Homo sapiens: one gene and its partners. The protein of the gene in region 6 purifies or fractionates together with the protein of the main gene of each other region. This does not show direct contact. Each region holds a gene or a part of one and is shown on either strand. Other genes may lie near its edges.

Region 1 (4,390 bases), on a different chromosome or scaffold from region 6:
TAAGAGAAAGAGAGTGTGTGTGCACAAATGCACACAGACCATCTGCTTAAGGCAAGCCTCTGCTGGGGAATAAATCACTGAATGAGGCATCAGGCAGGCAGGGAGGGTTTGAAGGGTACAGAGCAAGGCTGACAGCCACTGCTCACAGGTAACTGAGAAAGGAGTTGGAAGTAGGGGTAGGGAGTGGCTGGCTGTATGAGTCCCAGTTCTCTGGAATAAGAGGGAGCCAAGGAAGATGTGTCTTGAGTCTCTAGTTTCACTCAGATTTGAGAGGTATGGGTGGAATGCTGTTCTAGCCTCTTTAGTGACCCAGTCCATCTGGAAAGGAAGAAGGGAGAGTCATACCTGAGACACGGTCTGCTCCGTAAGGGGGACATCTTCACCCTATGGCACAGAGATACAAGCATTTAGTGTGGGAGAAAGCTGGAGTAAGACCTGATTGGAGTCTGGTATTAGAGAAGAAAAAAGTGATCCTTTAAACTGAAACAAAGGGCAGATGCACTGAACTTCTCAGTCCCTTCTAGGGACTAGTACAGCTACAATTTTACTTGGCCAGAGGGACTATGAACAAAAAAGGGTCATTTCATCCAGCTTCCATTTTAAGGCAGGAGGACTTCTTAAAAGATTTAACTCCATTCAGAGTAACCAGCAGGTTATCTGATCCTCAACTCCCTTAACGTGGGGGTGGAGGACCTGATTCCCTAGTCAGAAAAGGCCTTTTCTGAATATCAGTATCACTAGGGAAAGGATGAGGGGGAGCCAGGAGTGGTTTAATGGATCCCGCAAAGCCTGATGGGTAACGACAGCATGTTAATTTGAAGAAATAAACTGCTGCAACAGCAGCCTAAGAAGACAAAGCGGGGAGTTGATGGGGGGGACCCTCTCTCTTGCCACACAGAGACATATGTTAGAGGAGAAGATTAAACTATGCAAATGGAGCCCACAGCAGTTAAGAGAGATTTCCCATTACCAAGCACTGTCAGCCTTCACTCTGTGGAGGTCAGAGCCAGGACATTCTGTGAATGGGGAGATTTGCTTTGCTCAGACATCTTTGCACCCGTATAATTTGTTGGTGGGCTCTCTCTGCATCCACCATTATCTCCTCAGCTGACCTGGGGCCTTCTATGGTTAACTCAGAGGCCCCTTTCTGATATCACCAGCACCAAAGAGGACTGAGGTTCTGGCAAATAAGTACTTCCTAATGGAGAGGTACCATCCTCAGTTATGTAACACTTTATTATTATTATTTTATTTATTTATTTTTTTTGAGACAGAGTCTCACTCTGTCGCCCAGGCTGGAGTGCAGTGGTGCAATCTCGGCTCACTGCAACCTCCACCTCCCGGGCTCAAGCAATTCTCCTGCCTTAGCCTCCTGAGTAGCTGGGATCACAGGCACGCACCACCATGCCCAGCTAATTTTTGTGTCTTTAGTAGAGACAGGGTTTCACCATGTTGGTCAGGCTGGTCTCGAACTCCTGACCTTGTGATCCGCCAGCCTCGGCTTCCCAAAGTGCTGGGATTACAGGTGTGAGCCACCACGCTCAGTCCTATGTAACACTTTAAAAGACAAAACAGACACTCCTCTGCCTCAGATGACTGGATCCATCTCCAAGAAGGGAATAAGCCAACTTCAAGTTGCTTTATAATTTCAAAACCATAAATATTAAAGTTTATTTTATCATTTATTAAATAAGTATGTATTAAATGTCCACTTTGTGCAAAGACTGTATGAGATGTTAGGCACCATATTAGGGGTAGAAATAAGTTATTTCTGCTTCTTTCTTTGGGACAATAAGAAGAGAAGGGAAGAGAAAGGCTGAATGTATTTGAAAGAAAAAGAGAAGGTTGTATGTATCCTATGAGCCCCAACTACTGGACACATCCAGCAGGTCTGGCTCTGGAGGGTGTTTGTGAATAGATGCGGGGATGCAAAGAAACACATTCTTGCTTACCCTTAATGCCACCCGGTGTACCACCTGCTGGGGATCACTCTCTAGGATCACCCTGCAAAAACAAAGAAGAGATCATTGTTCACTCTGTCCCGAAGGCCCAACTCACTGTCGGGGAACAGGACCTCTGGCCACTGAGCCTGCTTGACTTAGGACAGGGGCAGTTATCCCGCCACCTCACCCAAGATCAAGGCAGGTCAGAGAACTTACCCTCCATCTACAATTTCATCCACAGCCAAGAACAGCCCCTCCATGTTCTCCAGCAGTGCTCGCTTTTCTACATTTTTCCTGAGTCCCCAAGAGAAGAGAAGAGAATAACCAACTTGTATGTGAAAGAAATCCTAGGACCTTGTCTCAATTGAGGAACCTAAACTAGACCAATAAACATCTCCACCAACCACACAAAGAAGTAAATAAGGTGAAGAACTTTTTAGCTAGTTCACTCAAAACCCCTTTCTACTCGTTTGCTGAATAAGGAATGTATGGAAAGAGATTCAAATAACACAGTCAATTTCTGACTATTCAGGGGTTGATTATCCACGCTATTATTTCTTTCCTACCTGCCATGATGCTGCTCATAACATTGCTCATAAACACTGACATCAGTGGGTGGAAAAAAACAATATAAACAGAGCTAAGACTCAGTCTGGAGGTGGCCGGAGGTGAGAGGGGTTCAATGCAAACCTTATTTGTACTCAAGCTCTGACAAACCTCCTGAGACATTCTCTGTTCCCTCTTCTCCCTATCCCTTACCAGCTCTGCTCAGGCCCTGAAAAGAAGCCCAAAGAGGGGGCAGGGTCTGCATACACCAGCCTCAGATCCGTTGGTTGGTGCATGTGGCCTGTCACATCTGTCAGTTTGAGTCTTTCACTAGATTACCCGAATGAATTACTATTCATTCACCTGGATAAGAAATAAATCATCCCCTTCCTGAGGAAATCTGAGCCATTCACCCTGCTGATTTTGCAGGGCTGAGAGTGCCTGCTGTTCTGGTCTGGATGGCTGTCTGTACTGGGTTCACTTGGGAGCTGCTGGGGGAATGAAGTTCAGAGCCCTGGATGTTTTCAGGAAAAGTAACTTATATCTCTTCTATTACCCATCTACACGGGTAACAGAGAACAGAGGGCTAGTGGGAAGGTGGAAAGGGAGGAGAGGGTAAATGGCAGAAGCTTCCTGTTTTTTGTTTTGTTTTGTTTTTTGAGACAGGGTCTTGCTATGTCACCTAGGCTGGAGTGCAGTAGCATGATCACAGCTCACTGCAGCCTCAACCTCCTGGGCTCAAGCAATCTTCCTACCTCAGCCTCCCAAGTAGCTGAGACTACAGGTATGCACCACCACACCTGGCTAATTTTTTTATTTTTTGCAGAGACAGGGTCTCACTGTGTTGCCCAAGCTTGTCTTGAACTCGACTCATGCAGTCCTCCTGCCTGGGTGCTTCCTGTTCTACAGAAGGGAAAAAACAAGGACTAGAAGTCAAAAAAAAACTGGTCTAAGTGGCTCATGCCTATAATCCCAGCACTTTGGGAGGCCAAGGTAGGTGGATCATTTGAGGTCAGGAGTTCAAGACCAGCCTGGCCAACATGGTAAAACCCTGTCTCCACTAAAAATACAAAAATTAGCCAGGCGTGGTGGCACGTGCCTATAATTGCAGCTACTCTACTCGGGAGGCTGAGGCAGGAGAATCGCTTGAACCTGGGAGGCAGAGGTTGCAGTGAGCCGAGATCACGCCACTGCACTCCAGCCTGGGTGACAGAGTGAGACTCCATCTCAAAAAAAAAAAAAAAGAAAAAAAAATTGGGAGTGTTGCTTCCATTCCTGAAGTACTGAATGACATTTCATCTGGGACACTTCCTTATGCTTGGCCTTTCCCTACTTCTAATGTCAAGAATGAAGCCCAGGAAAGCACCTTGAGGATGCTCAGATCTGACAGGACCACAGGGGATTACAAGAGTAAACACAGAGGTAAAGATTCGGCTCCCTCCCAGTCCCCTTACTTAGTAAGAGAATTATTCTATGGGAGGGACATACTCTCCATCCAGTCCTCCCCAGTAGCATGAATTACTGTGAATTAATAAACCCAACTTTTTTTTTTTTTTTTGAGACAGAGTCTCACTCTGTCGCCAAGGCTGGAGTGCAGTGGCGCGATCTCGGCTCACTGCAAGCTCCGCCTCCCAGGTTCATGCCATTCGCCTGCCTCAGCCTCCCAAGCACCTGGGACTACAGGCGCCCGCTACCATGCCCGGCTAATTTTTTGTATTTTTAGTGGAGACAGGGTTTCCCCATGTTAACCAGGATGGTCTCAATCTCCTGACCTCATGATCCGCCCGCCTTGGCCTCCCAAAGTACTGGGATTACGAACGTGAGCCACTGAGCCCGGCAAAACCCAACTTCTAAAACTAAATCAACTCCCTGGAGCCTTTGCCAATCCCCTACAATCCCTG
Region 2 (4,390 bases), on a different chromosome or scaffold from region 6:
TGATGAGAAACTTATTTTCTCAAGTTTAAACCATTTTTGTAATGTTTAAATTTTAGAAAAATAAAATCACATATGCATGGAAAAAAAATCAAACTTCAAAAATACATGATTACCCAGATTTTAGAATGGGAAAGGACCTTAAAAAGATAGTCAAACATACAATGGAATGTGTTCAGCCTAAAAGTATCATTCAGCCTTAAAGAAAAAAATCTGCCTTATGTGACAAAACACAATGAAGAATCTGAAGCACGTCATGCTATGTGAAATAAGCCAGTCACAGGACAAATACTGCATGATTCCACTTATATGAGATACCTAAGATTATGTAAGATACCTAAGATAGTCAGACACACAAAAATAGAGAGTAGAATGGTAGATGCCAGGAGCTGGGGGGAAGGAAAATGCAGAGTTGCTACTGTTAAATAGGTATCAAATTCCAATTACACAAAATGCATAGTTCCAGAGACCTACTACTGTACAGCATTATGCCTATAGTTAACAATACTGTATCATGCACTTAAAAGATAGCTGGGCGTGGCCAGGTCTGGTGACTCATGCCTGTAATCCCAGAACTTTGGGAGGCCAAGGCGGGTGGATCACCTGAGGTCAGGAGTTCGAGGCTAGCCTGCCCAACATGGTGAAACCCTGTCTCCACTAAAAATACAAAAATTAGCCGGGCATGGTGGTGGGCACCCGTAATCCCAGCTACTTGGGAGGCTGAGGCAGGAGAATTGCTTGAACCCAGGAGGTGGAGGCTGGAGTGAGCCAAGATCGTGCCATTGCACTACATCCTGGGCAACAAGAGCAAAACTCTGCCTCAAAAAAATAAATAAATAGTCTGTTAAAAGAGTAGATTTCATGTGAAGTGCTCTTACCTCAATTAATTAAACACACACAAAAAAGGATTCAGTATAAAAATTTTGGGCAATCTATCTTGAATGAAATGAGTAACTGGGAGTTTCCCTACCTCCAAAAGCACTACTCAATACTTTAAGTTTCTTTGGGCAGGAAAAATGCTAAATGTACCAAGCATAACGCTACGTGCTTAAGATAAACAGCAAGAGAAAACTGTACATATTCAAGAGATATGTAAGAGATAACAACAAAAACTGGACAACAAAGATAGCAAAATAAAACAAAAAACAAAAAACAAAAACAGTGTTATAAGGCTGGGGGTGGTGGCTCAGGCCTGTAGTCCCAGCACTTTGGGAAGCTGAGGCAGGAGGATCACTTGAGCTCAGGAGTTCAAGACCTGCCTAAGCAACACAATGGCTTGCACAGCTAGGTAAATGGTGGCACCGATTTCTACAGGTAAGGAAAGTACAATTAAAAAATAATATGAATAGAACATCCTCCCTTCCTGTTGAAATCACCATGCCAGAGTCACGTGTGGAGAACTGTTAAATAAGCAGTTGCATAAAGCTGGAAACTTAGCTCCTTTTATTTAACTCTTAAGGTCTCAAAATACAAAATCTAGTTAATGAAAAATTTCAAATAGCAACAAGAAATGGATTTCATCAGTATGCATTCGACTTATACACTAATGTTCTTTCTGTACTTAGTTTTATTCTACTACATTTGATAAAGTCTATTCTGCCTATATAGAGATGAATCATTTATTCTTGGGCCATGGCAACGTTATTTGGGTGACATCTTAGAAAACAGACTTTCTTAAACTTTTTTCCTTGTATATCTCATGGTAAACATTTCACCATGAATTTTTTTTTTTTTTTTTTTGGAGACAGAGTCTTGCTCTGTCGCCCAGGCTGGAGTGCAGTGGTGTGATCTCGGCTCACTGCAACCTCTACCTCCTGGGTTCAAGCAATTCTCCTGCCTTAGCCTCCGGAGTAGCTGGGATTACAGGCGTGCACTACCACGCCTAGCTATTTTTTTGTAGTTTTATTTAATTATTTATTAATTTAGAGACGGCGTTTTGCTCTTGTTGCCCAGACTGGAGTGCAATAGCGATCTCGGCTCACCGCAACCTCCACCTCCCGGGTTCAAGTGATTTTCCTGCCTCGGCCTCCCGAGTAGCTGGAATCACAGGCATGCACCACTACGCCCAGCTAATTTTGTTCACGCCTTCTGGGTTCACGCGATTCTCCTGCCTCAGCCTTCTGAGTAGCTGAGATTACAGGCGCCCGCCACTGCACCCGGCTAATTTTTGTATTTTAGTAGAGACGGGGTTTCACCATGTTGGTCAGGCTGGTCTTGAACTCCTGACCTCAGGTGATCCGCCCATCTCAGCCTCCCAAAGTGCTGGGATTACAGGCGTGAGCCACCGCGCCCAGCCTATGATTCTTGTGTTTAACAGTTTATCGTTCTGCATTTATTTATTTATTTGACCGAGTCCCGCTCTTTCGCCAGGCTGGAGTCCAGTGGCACGATCTCGGCTCACTGCATCCTCTGCCTCCAGCGTTCAAGCAATTCCCGTTTCAGCCTCAGGAGTAGGTGGGACCACAGGTGCGCGCCACCATGCCCAGCTAATTTTTTTTGTATTTTAGTAGAGATGAGGTTTCACCAAGTTGGCCCGTATGATCTAGATCTCCTGACCTCGTGATCTGCCAGCCTTGGCCTCCCAAAGTGCTGGGATTACAGGTGTGAGCACCGTGCCCGGCCAAAAGTTTATAGTCTTATTTTATGACTTCAAAATCCAAGTCAACTACTGCAATCATGCTTTAAAAAAAAAAAAAAAAAAAGTCCCAATGATGAAATTAGCAAACTAGCTGTGTTAGTTTGTCTTAATGCATTAACTTTTGTAACTTTTGTAGCTAACACTAATTCCTTTTAAAATCATTAAAATGGTTCAACTTCAGGATTAAAATTGCCATTGTTAACATCTATTTACTATGACTGCAAAATGGTCTTAAAAATAAAATAACATGCATCATGAATACCATTAGGTGCCCAAAACCATATTAAATTGACTACATAGACAGGTACCGTGTGCTTCGAATGGGGAGAGGTCCATTTAAAGGAACTTACCTCAGAGAAACGATCAAAATTAGACATGTCTTCATCTGAATCATCTTCCCAGTCTTTCCAATTATTGAAGTCGACACTAAGCCAATTAAGCTATAAATCAATACAAATATCACCCTAAGATTAGGCTAATTTGCATTTGGCATGAACCTTAAGACTACGTTTTCTTTTCTTCTAAAGAGACCAGGTCTTGCTATGTTGCCCAGGCTGGAGTGCAGCAAGCATTCACAGGTGCAATCCCACTATTGATCAATATGTGAGTTTTGACCAGCTCCGTTTCTGACCAAGGGTCTTGTTTACCCTCTTCAGGCAACCTGGTGGTCCCCGCTTCCTGGGACAACACCGTACTGATGTTAACTTAGCGTGGTTACCTGACATATGGCAATGCAACCCAGACTTGGGCGCAAGTATTTCTCCCACTTCACCCTCCAGAGTAGCTTTTAACTACAACAGGCACATGCTACTGGTGCCTGGCAAAACAATATTTTTTGAACTGTGACTTTGTATTTTTAGGAGGGCATGTAATTAGCACACAAAGAATAGACTAAGCTAAATGAGGTGGCTCACACCTGTAACCCCAACACTTTGGGTGGCCAAGGTGGAAAGACTAGTTGTGTAATCCTTCAGGAGTTCGAGACAGCCTGAGCAATAGTGGATCCTGTATCTGGGGAAAAAACAAAAAAACAAATTTCCTGGGCGTGGTGGCACATTCCTACAATCCTAGCTATTTGGAGAGGTGAGGTGGGTGGGAGGATCGCTTAAGCCCAGGTGGAGGCTACAGTGAGCCATGTTCACACCAGTGCACTCTGGCATGAGTGGCATGAGACTACCTAAAAAAAAAGACTAGGCTGGTGTCGTGGCTCATGCCTGTAGTCCCAGCACTTTGGGAGGCTGAGGTGGGGAGACTGCTTGAGCCCAGAAGTTCAAGACCAAGCTGGGCAACACTGTGATACCCCTTTCTACAAAAAATACAAAAATTAGCCAGGTGTTGTGGCATGCCCCTACAGTCCCAGCTACTTGGGGGACTGAGGAGGGAGGATCACTTGGAGCCTGGGAAACTGAGGCTGCAGTGAGCCAAGATCGTGCCACTGCACTCCAGCCTGGGTGACAAAGAGAGACCCTGTTTTGGGGGAAAAAAAACACTGAAAATTGTTAAACATACCTTTTGAAAACAAATTTACTAGTAAGAACTATTTTCAGTTGATTATTTTTTCACCAAGCTTTGTCCCCTCCCATGTGATAGCTGAGTAATTTATGCAAAGTCTGTCTCTTAAGTACAAAAGATTCTACACCAGTTAATAACTGATATTCTGATCACACTTCGTATTAAAACTGAGTAGACAAAAAACATGAACATGAGGCTTTATACTTAGCTGTGAAACAAAAACACAGCCATATTCCTTACATC
Region 3 (4,390 bases), on a different chromosome or scaffold from region 6:
CTTTCAGCCTCAAGCAATCCTCCCGCCTTGGCCTCTCAAAGTGCTGGGATTACAGGTGTGAGCCACCATGCCGGGCCGACAAATCTGACTGGTAAACTTTTACAGCGCTGCAAGCAAAATTTGATACCTCTGAATGCAGTGATACAGTAAAAAAAAATTGATATACACTGACTAAACAGTATTCAAATGCAAGGGATAATCTTTTTGTTTTCTTTAGGTTTTGATTTTACAGAGTTAAGAGACTCAAGTACATCCACAAGTTTTTTTGGTTTTTTTTGAGACGGAGTCTCACTTTGTCACCCAGGCTTGAGTGCAGTGGCACGATCTCGGCTCACTGCAACCTCCATGTCCCGGGTTCACGCCATTCTCCTGCCTTAGCCTCCCGAGTAGCTGGGACTACAGGTGCCGCCACCATGCCCAGCTAATTTTTTGTATTTTTAGTAGAGACAGGGTTTCACCATGTCAGCCAGGATGGTCTCGATCTCCTAACCTCGTGATCCACCCGCCTCGGCCTCCCAAAGTGCTGGGATTACAGGTGTGAGCCACCGCGCCCAGCTGATCCACAAGTTTTTTAAGGCAAATAGCAGCCCTCTCCCTCATTTCCTTTATCCAGAGGGCCCCACTTTTAATTCTTTTAGCTGATTCTTTTGATTCACATCTATTTTATTAAGTAACTCACTGTACTTAGTCTTCACTTTCCAGTTTTAGGTATTATCCACTGACTTCTATTATGGGACAGCAGAATTTAGCTCTCCTACCTCTCTATCCCCCACAATATATACTCACACATTGTATCCTTTCAGTGTAGTTTAACCTTAATTTTGGTTAGATTAGTGTGCTATTCAGAGTTGAGCCATAAAATATGACTTCTTTGCTGCACAATTTTTTGGATTTTTTTCTCCTTTGCTTAGCTTTCTAGTGACAACTCTATCCTAAACTTGTTGCTAGTTGTCCAAATCACCTCTTCTTTTTATTTATTTTTTTGACACAGAGTCTCACTCTGTTGCCCAGGATGGAGTGCAGTGGCCCAATCTTGGCTCACTGCAACCTCTGCCTCCCAAGTTCAAGCGATTCTCCTGCATCATCTCCTATAAATCACCTCTTAATACATTTACATTTACATTAGGTTTACCAATTTATCTTTCTGAACAGCTTTATTGGAGCTTTAACCTGCTCCAATCTGGTTGGCTGCCCTGGTCACAGGCATGCAGTCATTTACCACATTGTATTAATAAATTAGGTTAAGGATTAAATATGTCACCTAATTCCATCAAATATGGAGTTTATAATCTGTATCTTTTGTTTCAGAGTAACTTTCAAGAAAATAAAGCAGCAAAAAGTTTTCTTTTCTCAACGACCTTAAAATGAGAAGCCTCTACATTGGCACAACAATGATTTTACTACCTTTAGAAATGACAAAGATTGATTGACTTATAGTTTTATAATTTTGCAAGAAAACTTATTTTTATTATGGATTCAGTTAATGTAATTTTGCTTCAAGATTTTTTTGTTTGTTTGTTTTTGTTTTTGAGACAGAGTGTCTGTCGCCCAGGCTGGAGCGCAGTGGCGCACTTTCGGCTCACTGCAACCTCTACCTCCTGGGTTCAAGTGATTCTCCTGCCTCAGCCTCCCGAGGAGCTGGGACTTTTGGTGTGAGCCACCACGCCCAGCTAATTTTTGTATTTTTAGTAGAGATGGGGTTTCACTATGTTGGCCAGGATGGTCTGGAACTCCTGACCTCAAGTGATCTGCTCGCCTCGGCTTCCCGAAGTGCTGGGATTATAGGCATGAGCCACTGAACCCGGCCTGCTTCAAGACGTATTTTAATAGAATGCAACTATTTTGTTAAGCAATACCTCTAGTACAAAATAAATCAATAATACAGAACTGTAAGAAATTAGATTTTTTTTTTTTTTTGAGGTGGAGTTTCACTGTCTCCTAGGCTGGAGCGCAGTGGTATGATCTTGGTTCATTGCAACCTCCAAATCCCAGGTTCAAGCAATTTTCGTGCCTCAGCCTCCAAAGTAGCTGGGATTACAGGTGGGTGCCACCATGCCCAGCTAATTATTGTATTTTTAGTAGAGACGGGGTTTTGCCAAGTTAGCCAGGCTGGTCTCGAACTCCTGGCCTCAAGTGATCCACCTGCCTCAGCCTCCCAAAGTGCTGCGATTACAGAGCTACCAAGCCCGGCTGAAAAAAATTTTTTAAGAAGACGGGAATCTCCCTGTCACCCAAGCTGGAGCTATCACAGGTCATTACAACCTTGAACTTCTGGGCTCAATCAATCCTCTTGCCTCAGCCTTCCAAGTAGCTAGGATTATAGGCGTGTGCCACCATGCCCAGCTAATTTTTAGAATATTTCTTTAGTAGAGATAGGGTCTGTCTTGCTCAGGTTGATCTTGAACTCCTGGGTTCATGCAGTCCTCCTGCCTCAACCTCCCGAAGTGCTGGGATTACAGGTGTGAGCCACTGTGCCCAGCCTCTGCTTTGTCTTTTAATGCAAACCACAAAAGTTCCAACATGTATAAATTTTTTGAAGTAAAACATTCTTTATTAAATATGACAAAGTAGGCCAGGCGCGGTGGAGCTCTTGAAGTCAGGAGTTCTAGACCAGCCTGGCCAACATGGTAAAACCCTGTCTGTACTAAAAACACAAAAGTTAGCTGTGCGTGCTGGCAGGCATCTGTACTCCCACCTACTCGGGAGACTGAGACACAAGAATTGCTTGAAGCCTGGAAGGTGGAGGTTGCAGTGAGCCGCGATTGCACCACTGCACTCCAGCCTGGGTGACAGAGTGAGACTCTTGTCTCAAAAAAAAAAAAAAGACAAAATAAAAGGCATTCAAGAGTTTCACAAGAAACTCTCCAGATTAAAAAAGAGAGAAAAATGCTATCTTCATAGAAATAAACTTCCACAACTCTAATCTATAAAAACACTTACCAAATACTGTGAAATCTGGGTAAGAAAGAGGAGGGTGCTGGGAACTAACCAATGTTAGTACCTTAGACTTTCAATGAAGTGTAGTTGTCCCCAAGTAACTAAAGGCTATAATAAGCTTAGCTTATTATTATCTTCTAACTAAAGTGATGAAATCTAATGGCATGAATATGCCATGAATTTTTTTATTTTTTTGACAGAGTCTCACTCCTCTGTCGCCCAGGCTGGAGTGCAGTGGCATGATCTTGGGTCACTGCAACCTCCACCTCCCACCTCCCCACTTCAAGTGATTCTCATGCCTCAACCTCCTGAGAGGCTGGGATTACAGGCACACGCCACCACGAGGCAGTGTTTCGCAGTGTTGGCCAGGCTGGTCTTGAACTCCTGGGCTCAAGGGATCTGCCTACCTTGTCCTCCCAAAGTGTTAGGATTACAGGCGTGACCCACTGCACCCGGCCTCAAAAAATTTTATAGTTATTTGGCACTGCTATGACATTTTATTTATTTATTTATTTATTTTTTGAGACAGAGTCTTGCTCTGTCGCCCAGGCTGGAGTGCAGTGGCGCGATCTCGGCTCACTGCAACCTCTGCCTCCTGGATTCAAGCGATTCTCTTGCCTTAGCCTCTCGAGTAGCTGGGACTTGAGGCGTGCACCAACACACCCGGCTAATTTATGTATTTCTAGTAGAGACAGGGTTTCACCATGTTGGCCAGGCTGTTCTCGAATTCCTGACCTCAGGTGATCTGCCTGCTCGGCCTCCCAAAGTGCTAGGATTATAGGCATGAGCCACCACACCTGGCCTGCTATGACATTTTAATCTTATTTTACAAAAGTAACAACTCTGCACTGAACTGAGTATTAAACAAACAAAAGACAATTGGAGAACTGTGAACATTAAGAGAAAATTTGATGATATTAAGGAATTATTCCTAATTATTGAGGAGTGGATTAGCACTGTGGTTATGTGAAAGAAAAAAAAAACACCCATCTTTTAAAGACACATGGTAAAATATTTACAAGAGATGATGAAGTCTGGTATTTACTTCAAAATAATCCAGAGTGTAAAAAAGGTAGTAAAACGTATGAGGTATACATTAAACAAAATTGGCCATGAAATGATAGTTGTTGAAGGCAGACAATAGGTACCTGGAGAGTCATTACACTATTCTCTCTACTTCAGTGTACGTTAGAAATATTTCATTAAAAAAATGTAAAAATTAAAGGCAACACCCACACTGGAAGCAAAATAGCAGCAGAAAAACAAAACCACGGAGACATGGTAAGGAACACAGATTTGAGGAACTCACACAACACTAAACAGAACAGAACATAGCAATATAAATAACCAGAAAGATAGCTAAGTTTCTAAAGAAAGGAACATATGGAACAGAAAAATAGTAAAACAATACATCAGCAAAAGCCAAAATATGGATACTGAGGTAGAAGAGCAA
Region 4 (4,390 bases), on a different chromosome or scaffold from region 6:
GAATTTTCTTAATCAAGAGAGTTGTTAAACCAATGAATAACGTGCACCTTCTACTTGCAAACACTATTCTGAAAAGTTTCGTATCTATATTCTTCATCTCTAACACTGAGGCTACATATGAGTCTAGAAGGGAAACAACAGAAGTTCACTCAGCTACTGGGATAAATCCAAGTGAGATGACTCCATATCAATCTAACTCACTGATAAAAAATACCTATTTAAGATAAACCACTTGTTTCTCATCTCTTCCATAAGTTTTCAACTTCCTCAAAAATTACTCTTAGAGCAAAAAGAAACGTTCAGACAGACCTTATTCAAAAAGTTCTCCCAGCTATAGTACACGCAATTTGGTCTCACATTACCAATTTTCTCGTTTAAAATATGTAAAATTTGCTCCCATATATATTTCTTTAAGTTTATATTCTTACAAAGGATTTGTTCATGGCACGTTTCACTTCATCAGAACCATCTGAATAGATCTGCTGAAATAATCTGTTTAAAGCTGCATCTCCCTCCAACTTTTCATTCTTTTCTTCTTCTTTGATCTCACCAACCAATTTATCCCAATTTCTTGTATAAGGAGATGATGATGGATATAGGTTCTTTACATCTATGAAGTAAAAAAAGGCAGAAGTAATTAATCAACATGTTTCAATTATGTCGAGAATATGTAAACTTTGTGACCATGTATATGGAACATCTTAGCAAACAGTTTAGGTTACTGAATTTCAGGTATGCAATAAGTGTCTTTCTGGTATATAGGTCAATAACAAAATTCACATTTCTAAAAACTGAGTCAGTTACCATAATGTAAAATCTGGGGATTTCTTTTGAGCAAAATAACTCAATAAAGTGTAAACTTTTGATATGCTATACAAAATTAGATTAAAAGCAGATTCTTCATGTTGATAACAGAAACTAGATGAAAAGTATACAGAACTTTTATGTTTTCAGAAAAGTTGCAGAGACAGTACGAACAATTCTAAAAATGAAATTTTTTAAAGGATGCCTAAGAAATCTTTTGTAACTAAGATTTTAATAAATGTTAAAAATGTGACTTTTTCTAAAGTACTTAGTATCTTTCAGAGTATAAATAGCCTGAAAATATAAATAATCATCCATGCCACTCCATACTCTCCCATCAAAAAAGTAAGATTATTTTAATAGGCAATAACAGTAAGTAATTTCTAAATGTTTAAAGTACTACACTTGATGATCTAAAGTTCAATGCCCACATCCCATACACCTAGCAAATAATAGTATTTGTAGGGCACACTGGAGTAAACAGAGCTGCTTGCAGCGAGAGAGGCTACTGGCCCAGGGGCTCGGGGTACTGCCAAGATTGCTCCAAAGACCAAAGGCATCAAGATCTTGGCACACAAATAATTAGAAAATAACTAGACAACCTAGTAGCTATAGGAGCAGCTCTGTTGACTATCCAATGAAAATATAATGACAGCCTCAAATGTGAGTCACATATATAATTTAAAACTTCCTAGTAACTACATTACTAAAAAGAATCAGGTGAAATGCAGTTTAATAATACATTTTATTTAACCTGATATATCAAATATAGTATCATATTGACTTGAAACCAACAGAGGCCGGGCATGGGGGCTCACACCTATAATCCCAGCACTTTGGGAGGCCAAGTAGGAGGATTGCTTGAGGCCAGAAGTGTGAGACCAGCCTGGGCAACATAGTGAGAGCCCATCTCTATGAAAAAAAAATAATAATAATTAGCTGGGCGTGGTGGCACATGCCTGCAGTACCAGCTACTCGGAAGGTTGGGGTAGAGGACTGCTTGAGTCCAGGAGGTTGAGGCTACACTGAGCCATGACAGTGCCACTGCATTCCAGCCTGGGTGACACAGCAAGACTCTCTCTTAAAAAAAAAAAAAAACCAACAAAAAAAATGAAGATATTTTATATTCTTTTTTTCATACTAACTCTTCAAACTGTAGCATATATTTCACATAGCACATCATCTCAATGCAGACTAGTCATATTTCAAGTGCTCAACAGGTAACATGTGGCTAGCAGCTACTGTGTTGGACAAAAGAGCTACAGTTTTCAAAAAACCCAATTCAAAATTTCCCCATCAGTATGTATTAGGACACATTAGTACTAATCTAAATGTTCCTCCCAATACTGCTCTCTACATCCCTTTTGTCAAAATAGCTGAGAAACTAACATCCACTGTTTTTCTACGCTTTCTCTTCACTTGTAAACCGACTTTCTCCCTGCCCATTCCTCCTCAAAACAAAACAACACACACAACACCAACACATAGTTTTTTTTCAGGGCCAAATATATTGTTTTGAAAATCCTATCCACCTTCCTTCTACTAGATATCCTTCTATCTTTGTACATTTTCACTAGTAGCCAGGTAAAACAAAAAATGCGTGCCATGGTAAGTTAAGAGCCTGGGAAATATGGATTTAATTAATCCTAATGCTGACTCCCAGGAAGGATGAGAACAGAGGTTTTAATCTCTATTTTGTAGATAAGCAAGCTGGGTCAGATAGGTTAAGTGACTTGCCCTTATCTACAGTCTCCAGCTTGCAATACACAGGAATCTGACAAGTATATTAATTTCTTACAAAAACAGGACAGGAAGAGTATCATCTTGAATATCTAAGGTGTTGAGTTTAGAAAAAACATGGTAACTGTAACACTAAAAAGCCTTGATCTTTAATCTCAGAAAAACTTTTAACACCTGGAGATGGCAGATGAACTACTGAGAGATGAGTAATCTAACCTCCCTGCTCATTCACTATAATATCAAATAACTACTAGATACTCATGTCGGCAAAGACTGTTTCCATTGTTAGAAAATGCAACAACAAGCAGTATGCAACAAGTAGACAACGGGTTAACAGAATAACTGGACCCAACTGAGAAGACCTAGATTTTAGTCCTAGACAATGAGAACTGAGGGATAATCTTGAGCTTAACTTTTCTGAGCCTGCAAAATGGGAGGAATACTAAGGGGCTGCCTGTTATGCAGGGCTGTTAGAATTAAGTAAGATACTACATTTAAAGTGATTATATATTTTTTAAAGCTTTCAGCTACATATAAACCTCAGCCTCAAAATCTATTGGAGTCAGTCCTAAAAGAAACACATACATCTTTCAAATAAAGTGTGAAGCAGATGCTTAAATACCTTAAATACCAACTAGATATACTTCAGTCCTTAAAAAGTATCTGTTGGTGTTAATACCCTGATTTTGAAAATTATACCACAGACTACTTAAGAGGTAATCATTGGACTAGTTAAGACACTATCAATGGGGGAAACTGGGTGAAAGCTATATGAGAATCTCTTATTTTTGAAATTTCTAAACATCCAAAATTATTTCTTAAGAAATAACTATACACACACACACAAACACACACACAAATGATCTGTTGAATAACTCAGTGTTTTCTAAAAGGTGCCACAAGGAAATGTGTTTTCTGTTACAGAAGAAAGCAGTCAAAATCAGAAAAAGCTGAGACACATGTTAGCTTGTTTCAGTCATTAAATCAGACCATTACTTCCAATAAAAAGAAATTTCCCTCCACTCATTAATGAAGCTATTGCTATAAAATATAATCTTAGGTTGTAGTTCTGAGTGTGCTGTGAATTTGTCCACTAGAAAAATTCTTACCTAGTTATTGCACATACTTAAAATTGACCTCAACACAAAGTTCTGTTTCTTACAGGGTTATATATACAATGAAGCCTGGTTTTCTACTCTTCTCCTAGACTTTCCTTTGGCATTTACCACCTATTTGCGTCCATCTCTAAATTAGCAATAAGAAATGGGGTAGATACCTTACCCTGTAAAGCCCTGCAAATTCCAGGCAATTAGATGACAGTATCAGTAGAAGGAACAGAAAGGAATTAAGAAAGGGAGAGGGAAGAAGGGGAAATATATCCGCCGAGTAAACCAACTTACAACCCAAAAAGAAACAACAGGAAGGGCCAACACGCAAAACTAAACACCCTCCAACTGATGTCATAAACTTTACATGGTAAACAATAAATCCCAACTCCCTCTAGGATTTTGCTGCCATTCATTTGTATTCTTAGAATTTGAGAAGTCAGAACTTTCACAGAAAGGCTACTTTATATTCATTACGGAGCAACCTTATTATACTCAATGTATCTTATCTTGAGAACATAAATAATGAAAGTAAAAAGAATGTTCATTACTATTTAATTTCAATTACACAACACAATATGAATATAAAGCTCATCAAGGCCAGAAAACAAACCTGCTACGAATTGTTTTGGCGTAGGCACATCTCCTTGCCCCTCTAGCTTTTCCCATCTCACAGCCTCTGGCTTTTTCAGTTTAATTTCAATCTGGAGGAAACACCAAATAAACTCCATTACTCGACG
Region 5 (4,390 bases), on a different chromosome or scaffold from region 6:
CTTTCATGCTAACACAAAATTTGTCAAAAATAATGAACAAAACTTCCTGGGTGCCAAAATTTTAATGTAAAGAATAGTAGAATAAAAAAAAATAACTATTTTCTGTGAGTTGTGCATGTATTTGTTTCACTGACAAACGTTACCATTTTTTTAAATGCTTTCTTTTTATAACTTTCTAAACATTTAATTTTTTTCATCTACTTGGACCAAACAATAAATTTTACTGTTAATTTGTTCATAAATTTATTTTTTAAATTAGATTAATGTGTTGCATTACAAAGAATACATGCTTTTTTGCTTGGTGGAAATGATTTCACTGGTATTCTTAAAACGATAAGAATGTTAACTAAGTAAAAATAAAGCTTACTACTGCACAATATATTCTATTGGTGCTTACTTTTTAATATTAATTTTATTTTAATATATAAAACATAATAATATTAGAAAATAAAAGAAATGAAACATTATGAAACTTTTAAATTGGAAAATATGCAGAATTCTATTGGAGCAGATAACTAAAATGCAGCAACGCTCAGCAACTGTGATTCTATATGGGAATGAAATTCTTGCTAAATTATTTTGTTCCTTTAACAGGTTTCTTAACAAACCTGAGCAGCATATATTTGCAACCAATACATGTTCTATAAGTGTATTGTTTTTTGACAAGAAGCTAAATACTCATTCTTTCATATCATCATGTTTCACCCTTATTTTGATGATGTGAAAGGTAAAAAGAAAAAGAAAAAGAAACCCAAGGCAGCATTAGAAGCATTAAAAGAAAAAATTCAGGTCTAGCAGAGCCATGAAAGCATATCTTATTAAGAAGAAAGAAACACAGTATAATAGACACAACTTAAAAATGAGTTTTCAATTACATTGCTTTCTTGTTTCTAAAAAAAAAATCACAAAGATTATTTCACAGAATTTTAAGTAATTTATCCAGTTCTGTGTCTAAACTGTACTATTCCAATGTACTCCTAATACCAACCAAGAATGCCTCAAGAACAGTTTATCCTATTGAGATATTTGATGTGACGCTGATATAAATGAAATAGCCTTAAATAAAATATTTAAGCCTTGCTATTAAATTTTTTATTAGTTTTCCTATAGTACCATATCTTTCAGATTTTGTTTAGAAAAGATTCAATCTCAAAACCAACACCATTCTTCCAACGTTAAATGAATGAAAACTCCTCATCGCTGAAAGAAACACACAATACTGAGAATAATTCTGAAGTGACAGAACATTCTTCAGAATATTTTTCAAATGAAAAGATGACAGAAAAGATAATCCACAGCTCTTCACGGCAATACTATAACCTTTAATACAAAAAGGAATTTAATTTTAGTGCTGCAGTCAAAGCAAATTCTTCAAATGAGATTTGCCATGACAAAGAACACTAAAAACAGGGAGTATTTAGTCTCTGGAGGGGTTTAAACTACTGAAGGGGGCACCTGGAGGCGTCTGCAGAGTGTGCGCAGTTCTTCAGTATTTAGAGCATCGATCCTGCGGTGATACTCAGCCACTGACACTACCTAAATATGGAGACAGGAAGACAATAATTCCACTGACAGTTGAGAAAAACAGCAAAAAAAAAAAAAAAAAAAAAAAAAAGAGGAGAAATTAAAATGGGAAGAGAACTGTAATTAGGATTTCTTCCCCACTCTATGTTGAAAATCCAAGAGATTTATATATCAAACTAGAGTGAAATATCCATGAATGATTTTCACTACTACATCCAACTAGTTGGTATGTAAGGTTTATTTTATGGACTATTCCATATAGATTCAACTTAGTAAATAGAAATTATAGTTTTTTATACAGAAAACACTATATAAAACACATACTTTGCTAACATTAAAGATAACGTCTGAAAACTAAACGGTCTTGCAGTTACAAAGGAAGTGGTAGTTTCAACTACCCCCTCCAAATCAGGTGAGCTCAAACATTATATCCTAATGGCCATGCTGGAAGAATTTCTTCTAGGCACAGGTGACAAACATACCCATCTATAACAGAAACAACAGAGGAGAGAAGAGCAAGAAAACAATATAGAAGTACATTTTAAAACCTATGGCAATAAGAAAAATAAGCTCTAGAAAGTAGAAAATTAGATTTTCAAAAGTATGTCTAATCAAAAGTACCTTCTAAGTATGTCTGCTTCAGCCCTTTAAATGACTTTTTTTTTCCACTTTTTGCCTCTCTCCTGTTTTATTTCTTTATGGTTTTTACTGTATCATTTATTTGTGACTAAAATTTAACAACTTTCCTACATTTTAACTTTCAAAGGAAAACTTTCTATCTTCTATAATTGCCTAGACCAGGCTCTTGCACAGTATTAAATTTGAAAGCCATAAATGACAGATAAACACTATTACAGAAAGCCCACAAAAACAGGTAAGTTTCCTCAGGTTGACATAATAGTTACAGCTTTTTCAGATCATGACATAATTCTAAAAACAGTTACCATACTACAGTGAACGCTAATGGTGTGATAAATATGTGACGATTCTCTTGAGCTATGACTAGTTCCTCTTGTAATCAATCAAAAATGCACAGAGGCTCTGACCACAAAATGAGTTAATCCAACTGGCTCATAAAGAGTTTAGATTTTGAACCTAGGTTTTAAAGGCTTTTTATTTAGCCAACTAAAAGGAACTGGCTACCAGTAAACATTAAGGTAACTATGAAAAGCTATGTAAACTTGTTGAAAGTTCTGAAAGACATGAGAATAGAAAAAAGGAAAAGAGGCTGGACAGATTTCCATTCTGGCCATTATTATTATATTGAATTTTGTGAAGCAACAAAGCATACAATATGTTAGCTGACTCTGTACTTAGAAACCAGAAGCTGTTATTCTCTCTAGCTCTGGGGGCGGATGGGGGGGGGTGTCAGATAAACCTGGGTTCCCCATTGCCTATCAATTTTGTTATAAAACAATGAAAATAGTAAAAGTGCATATCAAATCTGGTTTTATGTGAATTACTGAGGAAATGCATATTAAGGACTGAGTATAGTGCCCAGAACATATTAATGAGAACTACTATTATTCATATGACTTTTACTTGATTACTTTTCACCAATTACCCTGGAGACTAAATGATAATGGCCAAAGAGCCTCCTTATTAATTTTTGGTTTTTATTTTTGAATGAGAATATTTCAGGTTTGACATCTCAACTATTTTTAACATTTTGATTATTCTGAATTTAATTTTTATATTTCAGTATTAGATAAAAATAATGAAGGACTTTCAATTAAGAACAATAGGATTTCAATAAAGATAAAAGAAAAATTAGGTACTAAAAATAAAAAACATCATGGGCTTGCTTTTCTATGCCCAGCAAAACAGGTCTCTAGAAATATTTAATGGCCAATTATATTTTTCTTTCTTTTTTCATGGCCTTCAATCCAATAGTCTCCTAGACAAGGATTGTCAAAAATAACTTATCTAATTCTCTGCTTTCCTTCTATCCCTCCAGTTAACAATTATCTTATATCTATATTCTAAAACTCCTTCATTTACTATAAGAAAAACACTTCCTGGGTGGAAGTGAAATTAAATTATGCTTACAAAAGAGATCAGTCATAACCTAATTGTATCAGCATTGCTGAGAGTAGGAGTTACTAATAAGAGAACAATAAATCGCCATAAGGCTAAGCTTATCTTAATAACACTTGATAAAGTCATAGTTTCTTTCATGTCACAAATCTACTCTTTCAAATTTATTTTTTTCAATTATATTTTTTTCTAGGACTTAAAAACTTTCTGCTTCCTTAACCTTAAACATTTACTCATGCCCTGATGGGTGAGGATACAGAAAACTGTAAGAAAAAAAAAAAAGTCTGTGAGTTAATAGAAAAAAGAGATTTGAATTTGAGTACAGAAATATACTTCCTTCTCTCAAAATAAAGGGATAAAAGAGCTATATATTCCCAGTATATATGAGGAAACTGGAATTACTCTTACATTAATTTTAAACCCTTGGTAAACCATACTCCATGTATACAATTTATTACTTTACCCAAAAGATTAAACCTAAATAAAAAATGAATACATTTCTCCAAAATATCCCTTATCACGCTCTGAATTATTAGGAGTAAACAGTTGAGAAAACCAAGACCTTCCAATTAAAAGTGCATTCACTGGCTAAAAAATCGTTTCTTAAGGAATAAAGTATTTGGATATACTGCTAACTCCTATCTATAGGAACTAAGTACCATGACCTATACTCTGCAGAATTAAATGCCACTCTCTAGTCTTTTCAGTCTTTGACAAAGGACCCTCACAAAGAGAAAGTATTTTCCTAAGCCTTTACTTCTACAGAATTACCAATGGAAAGGCAGGGGTAAATCCACCCATCACTATTACAAATGGACTAACAAAAACA
Region 6 (4,390 bases):
AGGCCTCTCTGGTCCACCCTGGCACCCTGGGCCCGTGCGGGGGGTGGGGCACGGCTGGCCTCCGACTGCAGGCCCCACCCACGGCTGGTGGTGGGCTCCTAGGAATTTTATGATTGCCTGGGTGGTGGCTTTTACCCTTTTCCCTCGTCACCATTTTTAAAACATGGGATTCTTTCAGAGCTGGCCAGAGGCCCAGTGACATCCGCAGCTTGGCATGCCAGCTCCCCGCTCCTCCCCCGAGCCCTGCCGGGCCCTCCCGCAAGCCCTGCTGTGGTCCTTCCAGGGGCATGGGTGGGGAGCCTGGGGTCCTCCTGGGCCCCCACCCATGCTTCTCCCACACCCAGCTCATCCACTGCCTTCAGCTCCTTTCCTCCCTCATCCCCCGCTCCGCTGCCAAGCTGCTTCTGGAGCTCCTGCCCCTTTCCCATTGACCACCCCCCGAACTCCACTGCACACACACCTTGTTTAGGACGTCCTTCTGCGAGCCCAGGTAGAGGTGAGGCAGGATGCGGGTCAGGCCCACGCTGGGCACAGGCAGGCAGGGCTGGGAGAGGCTCATGGGTAGCAGGGCAGCAGGCTTGCCCTCGCAGAGGCCGGGGAAGCAGGAGGAGAAGGTGGCGAAGCCCCCTGTAGGAGGAGGGCCGTCAAGTGGGTTGAGAGAACACCTAGGGCTCCCTGTCCGCCTAGGGTGCCCTGTCCGCCTAGGGCACCCCATCTACTGCTGAGGATCAGTCACACCCAGCCCAGACCCGAGCCTGAGCCCAGCCGGCAAGCCTCTGGCGGAGCACCTGCTCTGCCCGCGGTGGGGGGAGGGGGTACTGCCACACATTTACAGCCTGCACCTACGCCCACATTCCTCCTCATGCTAATTAGGGGCTGACCCAGCTGAGGACGCCGCTAGGATGCCCGTAAAGGTGGCGTTGAGGTGGCTGGCCATCACGGCACGCGCTGGGCCCAGGCAGGGGTGGGCTCAGAGGCCACAGGGGTCTCCTGCTGAGGGTGTGTGTCACACAGCCCAGAGGAGAGGCCCTCACGAGCCCGGCCATCTCCCATACCCATGGCCTGGGGCCAGGCTGGGCCTTCCTCCTCCCCTGCACTGATGCAATGCCTCCCTGCCTCCAGCTGGCTGGGAGCCCCAGGCCTGGGCTTGGGTGCCAGGACCAGGAGGCCAGGGCTTCCGAGAGGCCCTCCCCGTCCCCAGGCATGACATCACCCTGGCACAGCCCTCGGGGCATTTGCTGTCTGGTTATGGCTGTACTCCACCCAGCAGGGGAGGACGGAGAGTGGAGAAGCCCGGGGCACTGGGGGCACGCAGAGCAGGCAGTGGGCACCCGCTGCACACGTGACCAGCGTGTGCTGCTGCCTTCCACACACGTCCAAGTCCGAGGCCACAGGCTGGTGGGAGGAAGTCCCCTGCCCTGCACCAGCTGGAAGGACCCGAACGTGAATCCCTGGATGTCTGACTCAGTGACCATGGGTAGTGCACACCATGGCTCTGGTCTCAGCTTCCTCCTCCTGCCTGCCACACAGCATCATGTGGTTCCAAGAAGATAATGAGCACGAAGACACATGGTGAGAATGGACCTGGCCGTCCCTGACCTGGCTGGGGCGACCACCGATGTGGACCAGAAACTGGGCAGCACCCACCTGGTGGCTGCCAGCTCTTGGGAGGGTGAAGCCAGCATGGCCCAGCACCACCCCGAGGACACCTTCCAGAACATAAGCCCCCATGGCAAGCCGGCTCCTGCTTGTGCAGAGCCTGAGGCAGCTGGGCTGAGGCCTGCCCTATCCCATTGGACGGGGCAGGGGAGTGACGGCGGGAGCTCAGGGCCTGGGAACCCCAGGGCTCTTTTTTGTCCTGGTTTGCAGAAGAGGCTGGTGCCACATGTGTAGCAGGTGCCCACTGCCTGCCCCGCGTGCCCCCAGTGCCTAGGGCTCCTCCTCTCTCCATTCTCCCCTGCTGGGTGGAGTAGAGCCACCCTGGATAACTCCTGAGGACAGGGGAGTGTGTGCAAACCCCCAACCAGAACACCTGCTGTGCCAGCTCCCCGTGTCCCTAAAAAGGGCGTGACGCTGGGGGACTGTGGAGATAGGGGAAGCTCCAGGCTGGGTGGGTTGAGGCAGCAGCCTTGGAGGAACAGTCTCTTCTGTGGGAACCTGCTGACTGGACAGGGGAAAGCAGGTAGGTGACTTGTCACCAACGACGCCCCAGCTTGCAGGTTCCCCTGAGCAGAGGCTGGGATGGGCACTGTAGCTGGCTTCCACTCACTGTTCTGAGCTGGGGTAGCCCTGGATGTTCCCGCTGCAGGACAGCCCCGGGGAGGCGGAAGGGCTGCACCACTTCTCTGCAGACTCTTCTGCCACCTGCTGCCTCTCCTCCTCCCTGTGGCTCTCCCAGGGATTTTGTGCCTTACTCTCTGCTTTCTCCAGGGCCTGGCCAAAGGAGGAGGTGCTGGGGATTCCATCAGTACCCTCCCACCTCTCCCAGAGGAGGTAAAGGCAGGAAAGTCTCTGGACAGGTGCAGAGAACCGACAGCTATGTCAGCAATTCCCCAGGAAGCTTCCCAGGACCTCCCCAGGCGGAGCAGGTAGTGTGGATGTCCCTACACACCCCACTGTGGATGCCAGGCCTAGCAGGGACCGAGGCTCCAGGGATTTCAGAACCACCCAGGCTCTGGGGGTGAGTGATAAGTGAGGGGTGTTGGGGTTCAGTGGACCCTTTGTAGGTCCCAGCACTCTTTGGGCCCTGGGGAGGCACCCCTACCCCCAGGCATCTCCAAAGGCGCCTTCCCAGTATCCCTGCTCCCTGACTCGGGGGTTTCTGGGGCAGCGCCTGCAGTTCACCTGTTACTCACAGTGAAATCCCAGACTTGAAAAAAGGCGTGTGTACCAGGACATGTGCCTGCCCCATGCCACCTGGGAGACCCTGCAAGCGCTTATGGCCACAGTCACAGACGCACTTCTGCCCGCCACCTCCATGACCCCTGGACTCCCCGCCAGGGCGGGGGCCGCCACCCCACCCACTTGCAGTGCAGTCGCCCGGCCAAGGGTCCAAGGCCGACTGCGGGCCGCTGCTTAAAGGGCCAGGCCCCTCTCTCATCCCTTGCCGCTTGCCCCCCAACATCGTGAGCAGCGCAGCTGGAGTGGGGGAAGAGGAGCGGCAGGGGGAGGTGGGCTTCACAGCAGTCCTGGGACCCCAGCACAGCCTGTCCTGCCACTGTTTCTCTCCCGCTTCCCGCAAACCTGCCCTGCTGTGGGGAGGACAGAGGCTTGGTCCTCACATTCCGGCCTCTACTGTCCCTGCAAATGGACCAAGGAGCTGTGTTGCCTGTGCCGCGGGATCCTGGAACATCCCTTCTCCTGGGTGAGGGGCAGCACCCCTGCCCCCCCCAATATATTCTTTCCCACTCTCCCTGGTTCTTCGCAGAGCCAGCCCAGAGCAGGGGCTGTGCCCACCACAGGGTGGGAGGGAGCCTGAGGGCAGAGCCCGTGGGCCTGCCTGGGTGTCGCCATGAGCCCACTGTATACCACGGGGCCTGGGACTCCTTGGCAGCTGCACTTCTGGAGAAAAGGGGACACAGCCTCAACCTTGCAGGGCAGATGTCAGCACAGAAAGGCAGTTCTGAGGGTGGCATGACCAGGCCCTGGGAGTGCCCTCCTGGCAAATCCTAGCACAGGCCCGGCCCCTCCCATGCCCATACTCATCCACGCCCACCTGCACACCCATGCTGTCCCACCCACCAGTGCTGGGTGAGGGCCCCAGCCCCCCAAACCGTCCCACTCTGGCCTCGAGGGAGACAGGCCCTTCCAGGCTTGGGACTTTCCTGGGATCTGCCTGCAGGTAGGGAGGTGCCACTCTGGGACCTTTCTCAGCCTCCAAGAAGAGTCTCCTGACTCCCATTCCTGGCTAGGGCAGCAAACTGGCCTTTGGGAGGGGTCCTGTTACACCTGGTGAGCTGTAAAAAGCCCCAAACTACTCTCTCCCCGCCCCCCACCAGTTCAGTCCTCAAACTGGACCTAGGGGAACAGGGTTGGATCAGAGTGCGTCATTCTGTGGCTTCTGGTTCTGAGAGTTCACACATATGCACACAAATCCCAAATCTCACCCAGACAAGCACAGGCGGGTACATACACAAATATACCTCCATGTATATACATGCATATACACGTGCACACACGTACATGCACATATGCGCACACACAGGCATGCATATGCCCATACATGCACACATGTACATGCACACACATACATGCATGCACATGCACACACACACATACATGCACACACATGCTCACGTACACACTCGCAGAGGCAGATGCTGGTCACCAGACGCCCAGAGCCATGCACAGACGCACAGACACCCTCTGACCATGGCCACCCAGCAGTGCA
Region 7 (3,928 bases), on a different chromosome or scaffold from region 6:
TCCCCACCCAAATCTCATGTCACCAAATTGTAGTCCCCAAAGTTGGACGTAGGGCATGGTGGAAAGTGACTAGATCATGGGAGTGGATTTCCCTCTTTGGTGCTATTCTCGTGATAGAGTTCTCACCAGATATGGTTGTTTAAAAGTGTGTAGCACCTCCCCCACACCCCGCTTCTGCTTGCTCTGGCAATATAAGCCGTGCCTGCTTCCCATTCCACCATGATTATAAGTTTCCTGAGGCCTCCCCAGAAGCAGAAGCTGCTATCCTTCCTGTATGGCCTGCAGAATCGTGAGCCAATTAAACATCTTTTCTTTATAAACTACCCAGTCTCATGTATTTCTTTACATCAGTGCAAGAATGGATTAACACAAATTCTATATACGATTTTCCAAACTTCATTTTCTTATTATAATGAGCCATAGTTTAATAGTACTTTTGCCACATTGCCTTTTCATAACTATAGCTCTATCATTAAGAAATGTAGGCATCTCTAGAAAATAATAATCAAATGTATACCATCCACTCACCACATTATTTCACGTGTTTTAAAAGAACAATGAAAATAATTTATTAAAAACTGCACCTGTTTTAAAAGGGCAGGATTCTGATGCCACCCTAACAGCTGGCTTGATAACATCTATTCTGTTTCCCAGCTTTGTATTTCATACTCAGTACTCCCAAACACCTTGAATGAATTGAAATATTGCTAGTGATCTTTCTCCCGAGAAAATAAACTAACGCCTCCAATACACTCCAGTATAAATAAAACAACCTATGCACACCCATCCTTCCATCTATCTGTCCCATCCCAGCTTAATCCCAGCACGTGTGCTCTGCATTCCATTCTTGTTTCCTAGCTATGCCTATCATTCTTTCTTTTCTTTTCCTTTTTTTACTGCACTGTGCCTACTGCTGCTTTTTGGTCAAATATAGAAATGCTATAGTTACTATGTTTTTTAACATGCCCACCAAACCCAAAACCAACACCTCTTTTATGACCAGTTTCCTTCTCTTCAGGTAATGTTTAAAAGAAATAATGCTTGCTATCTCTAATGACTGCCTAGTTGCTTAATTCAGAGGACACTTTTTAGACCTCATTTGAACTCACTATAGTATCTCACTACATCTGACACTGCTGACCACTCCAATGTACTTATAACTATCTTCCCCCTTGGTTTCCATGCCACCCCCTCACAGTTTTCCATCGGTTTTTTCAGTGGGTCCTTCGGGGTTTTATTCATGGACCCTTTTCCTTTTGCTTACCCTTAAATGTCAGTGTGTGACATTTAAGAGTGCCCAGGCCTTCTTCTCACTCTACACATTCTTCCAAAGTAATCCCACACACTCCTCTAACTTCCATTACTGCCTACAAGTTAATTACTTCCAAAGCTGTGATCGTAAACCAAGACCTTTTCTTGATTTCCCAACCCAAATGCTTAACAGGTATCTCCACTTAAATGACCTACATGCTCCTCAAATTCAATATTATCTGAAACTAAACCTATCACCAGTTCTACTCCCATATCCTCAATTTCAATGACCAACACTACCTACCTCTCATGCCAAAAATGAGATTATACTTGCACCTCCCTCTCCCTTACTCATTACACCAATCAATGACCAAATCCTGTTGACACTGCATCATATGTCTCTCTCAAACTCACTCACATCTCCCCCATACTACTAAATCACCCTAGTCCAAGCCAATGTCTCTTGCAGAAATGACTGCAAATACCTCCTATTTGGTCTCTTCTAATTAGATAAAATGCACTTTGTTCCCCCGCCAGGCTACTTTCAAATCTAACATCACTTTTGACCATTAACTCTTTAATGACTTCCCATTGTCTTCAGAATAAAACAAAACTCCTTAGCAAGAAAAATAAGGGCCTTTACGATCTGACCCCTATCACTCTCCATCCCAACTCACTTCTCCCAAATTCACATTTCACATTTTCTCATAACTGCAGTGAACTCTAACCATTCTTCAAAGGCATCACACACTCTTGTATCTTTATATTGCAAACTAGGCCTGAAACACTCTTCTCAACTTTTTCACTTTCCAAATCTCAAAGCTATTTTCCTATTCCCAGGTAAGGTAGATCTTCCTTCCACTCCAAGCACATCTGTATTCAGATTTCCTTTCTAATTAATAGTCAATACTAAAATAAATAATTATTTGACACAAAAAAATCTAAGAAGATTCAAAATCCTCTCGACTGAAAAAAAAAAAACCCTTAGGAAATTAAAAATAGAAGAAAATGTCCCAAACGTGATATAAGTATTTTTTAATCGAAAACAAGTATCATTCTATTATAATTAATGCTGAAACACTTGAGACATCCTGTGGAAGGAAGGAACAGATGAGAATGCCTACTTTCACTGGCATGTTAATGTATACAACACAATAAAAGAATGAAGTAAAAATACTAGAAAGAGAAGTTTTTAATTCTACATAGATATATCTTTAGAAAAGAGAATCAACTGAAAACCTAACAGAAATAATAACCTAGCAATGTGGGTAGCTACACTATAAAAACCACTCACTTTCTGATATATAGTAGTACCTGGCTTTATCTACAGTTACCTGAAGTCAACTACAGACCAAAAATATTAAATGAAAAACTCCAGAAGTAAACAATCCATAAGGTTCAAACTGCAAACCATTCTGAGCAGCATAATGAATTCTTACGCTATCCATTCCATCCTGTCTAGGATGTGAATCCTCCCTTTGTCCAGTGTATCCATGCTGTACAGGCTACCTGCCTGTTAGTCACTTAGTAGCCATTCTGGTTATCAGACTGTGTGGCATCACTGTGCTTGTGTCCAAGTAACCCTTACTTTACCAAGAATAGCCCCAAAGCACAAGGGTAGTGATGCTGGCAACTCAGTTATGCCAAAGAGAAGCCATAAAGTGCTTCCTTCAAGTGAAAAGGTAAAAGTTATTGACTTAATGAGGAAAAAAAATCATATGGCGAGAGTGCTAACATGGATAATAAGAATGAATCTTCGAACCCTGAAATTGTTGTAACTGTTCCATTTTATTAGTTGTTAATTAAACTTTATCATAGTATATATTTATAGGAAAAAGCAGTATATATAGGGTTCAGTACTACGCTCAGTTTCAGGCATCTACTGAGGGTCTTGGAACCTATCTGCTGATTAGGGAAGACTACTGTAGCAGCAATAAACAGTTTAAATTTAAAGTGAAAAAAGCTCCCATCACAGTAACAACGTTCCCTTTACCACTCAAAGACTTAATAATTAAAATGTTAATTCTCCTCAAATTAATCCATAAATTCCCATTCAATTATACTCAAAATCCAAATAGGACTTATTAAAGAACCTGACAATTTCATTCTCAAATTCATCTGGAAAAATATTAATGTGTGAAAAGAGACCAGAAACTTTTTAAAAGAATGAGAGAAGACTATAAGAAATATCAACACACATTATAAAGCTCTATTAATTAAAACTATGGTTCTAGTGTATAAATAGAAAAATAAGTAAAACTGATGAGTCCATAAATAGACCCATATGTGTATCTAGAGATGCATTTTAAGTAAGTGGAGAAAGGTCTGGGCTCTTCAACAAATTATATTTACACAACAAGCCATCTGTTTGAAAAGAGGTTCAACTGATCTATTCCACACATCAAAGACCACATTTAATGCCAGATAAAGATTTTAATATAAAATGTAGTTATAAAACTACTGGAAGAAAATACAGAAGAGTTTATATGATGGTAGAGTGGGCCCAGTATTCCTTTACCACAAAAGGCAAAAAGACTGAAATATTTGACAGAATTTTGAATAAATATGTTAAAAAGTCAGACAACAAATAAATTATTTGCCATATGAAAGGCACAGTATCAATGATGTCTAGAGGCATCACAACCATGAACTGCCCGAAGGAAAAAAAGGGACACAG

The links.
Region 1: the proteins of DUSP8 (region 6) and COPZ1 purify together in Homo sapiens (affinity purification with mass spectrometry, with the first as the bait; one large-scale study listed by BioGRID). This does not show direct contact.
Region 2: the proteins of DUSP8 (region 6) and PTGES3 purify together in Homo sapiens (affinity purification with mass spectrometry, with the first as the bait; one large-scale study listed by BioGRID). This does not show direct contact.
Region 3: the proteins of DUSP8 (region 6) and FBXO11 purify together in Homo sapiens (affinity purification with mass spectrometry, with the first as the bait; one large-scale study listed by BioGRID). This does not show direct contact.
Region 4: the proteins of DUSP8 (region 6) and SUGT1 purify together in Homo sapiens (affinity purification with mass spectrometry, with the first as the bait; one large-scale study listed by BioGRID). This does not show direct contact.
Region 5: the proteins of DUSP8 (region 6) and OXR1 purify together in Homo sapiens (affinity purification with mass spectrometry, with the first as the bait; one large-scale study listed by BioGRID). This does not show direct contact.
Region 7: the proteins of DUSP8 (region 6) and NDUFAF4 purify together in Homo sapiens (affinity purification with mass spectrometry, with the first as the bait; one large-scale study listed by BioGRID). This does not show direct contact.

What each region holds. Positions count from the first base shown.
Region 1 is NC_000012.12:54,345,614-54,350,003, reverse strand, and holds part of COPZ1 (coatomer subunit zeta-1), read right to left. Parts: intron 2,238-4,390; coding exon 2,160-2,237; intron 2,005-2,159; coding exon 1,953-2,004; intron 385-1,952; coding exon 346-384; intron 1-345. UniProt on the Homo sapiens protein: The coatomer is a cytosolic protein complex that binds to dilysine motifs and reversibly associates with Golgi non-clathrin-coated vesicles, which further mediate biosynthetic protein transport from the ER, via the Golgi up to the trans Golgi network.
Region 2 is NC_000012.12:56,667,290-56,671,679, forward strand, and holds part of PTGES3 (prostaglandin E synthase 3), read right to left. Parts: intron 3,076-4,390; coding exon 2,986-3,075; intron 1-2,985. UniProt on the Homo sapiens protein: Cytosolic prostaglandin synthase that catalyzes the oxidoreduction of prostaglandin endoperoxide H2 (PGH2) to prostaglandin E2 (PGE2).
Region 3 is NC_000002.12:47,825,800-47,830,189, forward strand, and holds part of FBXO11 (F-box only protein 11), read right to left. Parts: intron 1-4,390. UniProt on the Homo sapiens protein: Substrate recognition component of a SCF (SKP1-CUL1-F-box protein) E3 ubiquitin-protein ligase complex which mediates the ubiquitination and subsequent proteasomal degradation of target proteins, such as DTL/CDT2, BCL6, SNAI1 and PRDM1/BLIMP1.
Region 4 is NC_000013.11:52,676,194-52,680,583, reverse strand, and holds part of SUGT1 (protein SGT1 homolog), read right to left. Parts: intron 4,355-4,390; coding exon 4,264-4,354; intron 611-4,263; coding exon 429-610; intron 1-428. UniProt on the Homo sapiens protein: May play a role in ubiquitination and subsequent proteasomal degradation of target proteins.
Region 5 is NC_000008.11:106,734,666-106,739,055, reverse strand, and holds part of OXR1 (oxidation resistance protein 1), read right to left. Parts: intron 1,537-4,390; coding exon 1,456-1,536; intron 1-1,455. UniProt on the Homo sapiens protein: May be involved in protection from oxidative damage.
Region 6 is NC_000011.10:1,558,429-1,562,818, forward strand, and holds part of DUSP8 (dual specificity protein phosphatase 8), read right to left. Parts: intron 628-4,390; coding exon 461-627; intron 1-460. UniProt on the Homo sapiens protein: Has phosphatase activity with synthetic phosphatase substrates and negatively regulates mitogen-activated protein kinase activity, presumably by catalysing their dephosphorylation.
Region 7 is NC_000006.12:96,891,508-96,895,435, forward strand, and holds part of NDUFAF4 (NADH dehydrogenase [ubiquinone] 1 alpha subcomplex assembly factor 4), read right to left. Parts: intron 1-3,928. UniProt on the Homo sapiens protein: Involved in the assembly of mitochondrial NADH:ubiquinone oxidoreductase complex (complex I). May be involved in cell proliferation and survival of hormone-dependent tumor cells. May be a regulator of breast tumor cell invasion.